2 separate regions of the Homo sapiens genome follow, and region 2 is linked to region 1. Evidence: fine-mapped expression QTL. A gene starts in region 1. The other region holds a variant in brackets. All regions are shown on one strand. Distances are between the middles of the regions.

Region 1 (2,920 bases):
TGATTCCTCCGAGTTCTGCTGAAAGCCTCTAGGATGCTTCGGGAAATGGGCTCGTTCCAATGAAGGGAAAGTATAAGCAATTTAACAAATGAGAGGGAACCCATGAGCCCACGGAAAGAGATGGGGTGCGGGTGAGGGAGTCCTGACACTGCTCCCCTGTGGGCTGCCCCGCTTCATCAGGGTAGGCTGGCCTCCCTGAACTGACTTACCATTCTGTAAAGCAATTATCTTCTGATGCTGTTGCTCGGTTAAGGCGGTTAAAGCTTTTAAGTGTTTCAAAGTTAATTCCAAGACTACAGCTTTCTCCAGATGTCCCAGAGTCTGCAGTGGTGCAAAAAAGAAACGGGCACTTGGTTACTTAAAAACACACATTTGGCTTAATTGGCTGTCCATTCAGCACAGCAATTTAAGCAAACACTTTGAAAGAAGTACTGTTCTTTTACTTCTTGAGCTTTCCACAAGACAGGTTATAAATGATTTCTTGCCTTCAGCTGGGAGCACCTACTCCAGTTTGCGGGAAACTCTGTACGGTATAGCACAAGTTTTAAGTCAGGAACTTATATTTACATTTATTCTTATATTTTCTGGGAGTCGCACCAGACTATTAACACGCCCTTGGAGAGCAGCAAAGAATGAAAATGTGCATCTTACTGTCAATTTCAGATGTTCAGGCAGTAAATCTTTCAGCTGAGCAATGCATTCATTAATTCGGTCTCTTCTTTTCTTTTCTATTAATCTGTGCGGTAATTTGTAGGTATCCTTAATATATGAGAGTCATGGAAAAGAGAAAACAGTAAGCGAAACATTCACTTATTGGATATTACCCTCGTCTGCCCCCCCCGCCCCCCCACCATAAAACATACTATGTGATAAACTACACCCAAGAAACCTCTTTCCTCTGGACTGTTCTGCAATGCAATTTAAATTCAGGTATGATGTTTAATATCCCCCTGAGAGTACCCAGCAAGCCACTTAAAATTCACAGTTGGGGAAGCTCAGGGGCTGGAATATATTTGCGGGCAGAGCTTCACTGTGAAATCAATGGCTCTAATTAACTACCCATGCAGGTTATGAGGAATATCGGGAACTTACACTTACCTTGGTGTCGTCTCGTTTCATGCTCCTTTTGGGTTTACACATATACAAAGAGGAATAGTCCAGTCTGCAAAACAGAAATCAGCATCAGGCACCCATTCGGGGAGGGGCTCTGCCCTCGCCAGCTCCATACCACTTTCTGGAGAAGAAAAAAATCAAACCAAAGCCTAGACAGATATTCGCAAGGGTGCGTGCACCTTACCCTATAAAATCTCTATGTTCCAGTAACTGTCTCTCTTGCAAATGAGGAATTCCTTCGTCCATGTTCAACTGCTGTTCGTTTCCTCTGTTTCGATTTTTGGGGCTCTGTACAATAATCTGTGGGACGGTAGGCTTGGGAGACCTTGGGGGGATCTGTGCGTCTCCAGTCTCTCTCTCGCTCTCCCTCTTCAGTGCAGTGTTGAAAGTGTGAAGCAGTTGGTCCCCCCCCTCCACCGCGCTCGCACACACACACGCACACACACGCACACTCGCGCCGGCCCCACTGCGCTGGTAGTTTGCTCTCACTCCAGGCAGTGTTTGGCCACAGGGCACGCGCGTCGCCGGCCAGACCAGCACCCAGCTCACGTGCGGAACGTACCATCCGCGGTCCAGCCCGGAGGGGGGCGGGGGAGGAGGGGCCGGGCCGGGCGGGGGCGTCGGGAGAAGGCGGCGAGAGAAGGCGAACGGCAGGAGGGGGCGGGGACACCTGATCAGGGCCACCGGAAAGGAAAAACAACTTCGGCCAAGCTATTCATCTTCCCAAAGGCGATGCAGTCGGCAGGAGGAGGGGGGAGTGGGGGTGCAGGGGTGCGGGGCAGCCTGAGCTTCCTTGGCTCCAAAATGCGACTCCCTGGGTTCGTCCGTTGTTACGGTGCAGGAATGTGAACGTGGCTTTTTGCTTTTCCACCGATTGTGCTGTTGGTTTGAACCATAGAAAGGAAGTGAAAAGAGAATTCGCGGTGGGTAAACTTGAGTCCCAAAGGAAATTTTGGAGACTTGTTTGCTCACTGATCAGTGGCCTGGAGGGACTCCTTGGCGCTGGGTGGAGAGGTTGCCTCGAGAAGAAGCAACTTGCAATCCGCTCCTTGAAGGATTTAAGATACATGAAAACGTTGTCACTGGGTCCGAATGTCGCAATCCAAGTGTCTTTCGGTGACACGGCGTCCCTGGGCCAACTAAACTTCCCCGCAGCAGCCGGAATTGCGGTGCCACTAATCACAGCAGCAGATGACGACGTTTGGGGCCGCGTGTGCTCCTGGAGGAACGCGGCGGGGAGCGAGCCGGGGTTGAGTGGGGGCTGGGAAGGGAGAAGGGGGTGGCACGAGAGGGGGTGGCACGAGAGGGGCTACCACAGAAAAGCTATGCAGCATTTATCACCCGCCCGCTCAACTCTGCCGCGTTCTGAGCCTCCGGTGACGCTACGTGCTTTCCCCATCCCCCCGCCCCCCCGCGCGATAAGAGACGCCCGGAGTGTGCAGAGCCCACGTTTACTACCGCTGGCACCTCCAAAGCCTCCCTCCTTAATCCGGTCTCAAACGGGTACCAGCACAGGGCCAGCAACGTGATCCGACCTGCCGCTGCTGCCACATCACTGCTCGGGGAACCCGTGCGCGCGCGCGCTCGCCCTGCAGCCGCGGCGCTCGGCGCCGGGAATCACAGGCCAGCAAGAGCCGGGTTACCTTTCCCCAGAGCCACCCTGGGAGCATGACTCACTGCTAGTGAGAGTTACCGGGAGGTGCCCGGGGATGCGCACTGCCCACGCCGCCCTGCCAGCCCAGGGGAAGGCATGTCCTGAGGGACTCCCAGGGGTGGGATGGAGGCTATATATATATTTCTCTAGATA
Region 2 (2,920 bases), 24 kb before region 1:
AATGAAAAATTATTGTCCTATCTCTCACAATGTTTAATGCCCTATCTGTTTTACATATAAGCATAAATTGTTTTTAGCATGGTTTTTTTTCCTCTCTTTTTGTTTTTAGAGACAAGATCTCATGCCCAGGCTGGAGTGCAGTGGCAAGATCATGGCACACTGCAGCCTTGATCTCCTGGGCTTAAGCAATCTCCCACCTCAGCCTCCCAAAGTGCTGGAATTACAGATGCAGGCCACCATTCACAGCCCTAGCATCATTTTAATAAAATTGAGTGTTCCAAGAATACAACTACCAGTTGAGTTGAGGAGAGATTATGCTTTATTTAACTCAGAACTTTACCCAGGTTTGTTAACCATCTTTGAAGTTCATTTCACAGGAGCATCTTAACTTCTGGAACTGAGTCACCAATAGAATAAACTGATAACAATCTGTGTTTGTAGCTCTTGATTCAAGGTGGTTCTAAGTATACATTTAAATATACTTTTTATTCTTTATTCAAAATGTCAAATATGAAAAGAAGAGTCAACTTGAAGGTAATATATTGGCATCAATATATTAACAGTATAAGCACCTGACTACTTCATTACATTTTGTAGCATAGCTACCATCTGTGCCTTTCCATACTTAAATATATATATATTTATATATTATTATATATAATTATATATATAATTTCTTTTATTTCTCCTTTATATCAAAGTTAAGGCATTACATTATTTTAATAATATTATTGATATATGATAGTTATATTTTTTAAAATTAATGTGCATTACAGACTATATTTTCTATAAATTTCATTTTAAGCTAGTAAAGGAGCATAAGAAAATATTTGTTATAAAAGGGGACCTTTAGTTCTCATAAGCTTGAGAACCAAGATTCTAAGGGTCTCTCTTTCATTTGTGAATTCCTCACTATTCCTCCCTCTTTCCTATCCATCCTACCACTTAAAAGAAGGAAATGGTCAGTAATAAGAAATTATTAGTAGCTAGGCCCATGAAGTAAGTTTTATTCTGATTAATAATGTTCTTTAAAAGACAGTTGTAAGCTGAGCATTCCTATGTGATGTGGATATAAATATAGGATTGTCAAAAGTTCATATTAACTCATTCATTATTTCATTTGTTAAGTATTACTATGTACCTGTGAGGTGTAAGGCATTTTGCTATTAAATTGATCGTGTCTGAAAAGCACCAAAATCATTGCTACACTGAAGAAAATCTCTCTCTGGGGGAACAAATGGATATTACATTAGGCAACAAAACAATTGACTGAGTGAAATGTTCAACTAGATATTTTGGAAGCATCTAATTTGTAACTCGTATTGGTCCCGAAAGCCAATCAGAGTAGATATGAAAGGGAAAAAATGCTAAAACTTTACAAAACAATTTTCATATTGGGGGAAAATACAATAAAGGAAATGGTGAGACTCTTTCTGACCCAAATATATATTTTTTAGAATCAAGATTACATCACTGTTAAATTAGTATAGCTGTAAAAGGTCT[C/T]TTGCATAACTATTTGCAATGAAATTCTTCATAGTAAATTTAGTAACAGAAAGAAACGGTCTTCTGCCATTATGAGAAACAAATTAATGTTATTTCCCCTGTCCCCAGCTTTTGAAATAACAGTAGGCAAAATAGCCTAGTGAAGGGTGGCTGTATGACTAGGAGCATGTTGCTTAACCTCTGAGCACATAGGTTTCTTTATATGATAACATTTACCTCATAAATTAAATGAATTAGCAGTTGTTATATGCTTAAAACACTGCTCAGCATATTAGAAACACAAAGCAAATAATAGCCATGATCATATCTCTTTTCCATATCAGAAGCGTGAAAACTGTTCATGGAAACAATTGCCTAATGTTGGAACGGCGGGCTTGACTTGACCAGACAGTCATATGCTTTGCTCAGTGCTTTTGTGCTCCAAATGCATGAGATACTAACCGGTCCTAGTGCAATTAAGAGTGTTTGACAGCCGGGCAATCCTAGCATGTTCCTAACTAAGCGATAATTGAAGATCTGTGTAGATTTTAGGTACAGGTTGTTACCCAGCAACAGATTGAAGTTCCGGAAGAAATTCTGAATTATCTCATTAATAAAGCAACTTCCTGATAGACAGCTATTGACTCTGACCACAGCGAACCCAAGAACTCATGATCCTCTAACCCAGAAAAAAAATATGCAGGTGAGCACTGATGAGGTGGCAAGATGCCAAAAAAACTGGTTTTACAACCTATCGGGTAAGTGAGCAAGTGGTGGCTAAAGGTTGGTCACATTATCTGGAAAGAGCAGGAAGATCAGGTCGACTGTGTTTTGCAGAGGTTATTAGCATAGCATGGGAATGCAGCTCTGCAGCCAAAGAAAGAACCCTGATGCCACTGGGGCATGCTGACCCATGATGCCAAATGGAAACTGCACCTGTCTGCCTTCCTTCTAGTCTCTCCATAGTGTATTGCATGACCACTGAACTCCCCCAAAAAGACATGCAGGAGGTCTTAGATTATGTCATTTAATGCTTGTAACTGTCCTACAGAGATGCTACTCTCATTAAAATCATCCTCTTTACAGATGACGAAACATAAATTTTGAGAAGTAAGTTGCTTAATGTCACAAAGCTGATGAGTGAGACTCATGAGCGAAGCTGTCTCATTTCTGATTTCATGCTGTCGATGAGATTGCCCTCTAGGAACCAATTACAACTAATGTTTGTTTAGGACTTTAACATTCAACGAGCTCAGAACCCCAGCATGCTGTAAGGTGGACCTTATCTTATCACCATCCCCATTCTATAGATAAGGAAACAGACAAAAAGATGTATAAGTGGTTTTCCCATGTTTATGCAATTAGGTGGTAGAGCCAGGATTTGAACCCCTGGTCTTTTGAATCTAAGCAGAATTTACAAGAGGAACACTCAAGCAGA

Evidence for each region.
Region 2: its variant is fine-mapped to the expression of BHLHE41 in lung (TOPMed, PIP above 0.99).

What each region holds. Positions count from the first base shown.
Region 1 is chr12:26,123,421-26,126,340 of GRCh38, forward strand. It overlaps BHLHE41 (basic helix-loop-helix family member e41), which reads right to left and starts at 1,617. Exons shown (of 5, transcript NM_030762.3): 1 at 1,298-1,617; 2 at 1,099-1,162; 3 at 652-759; 4 at 210-321. The coding sequence starts at 1,359. It also overlaps a transcript of SSPN not described here.
Region 2 is chr12:26,099,270-26,102,189 of GRCh38, forward strand. No RefSeq gene overlaps it. Among named protein-coding and RNA genes, the nearest start is that of BHLHE41, 24 kb to the right of the region's middle. The variant C/T (reference allele first, on the strand shown) is at 1,504.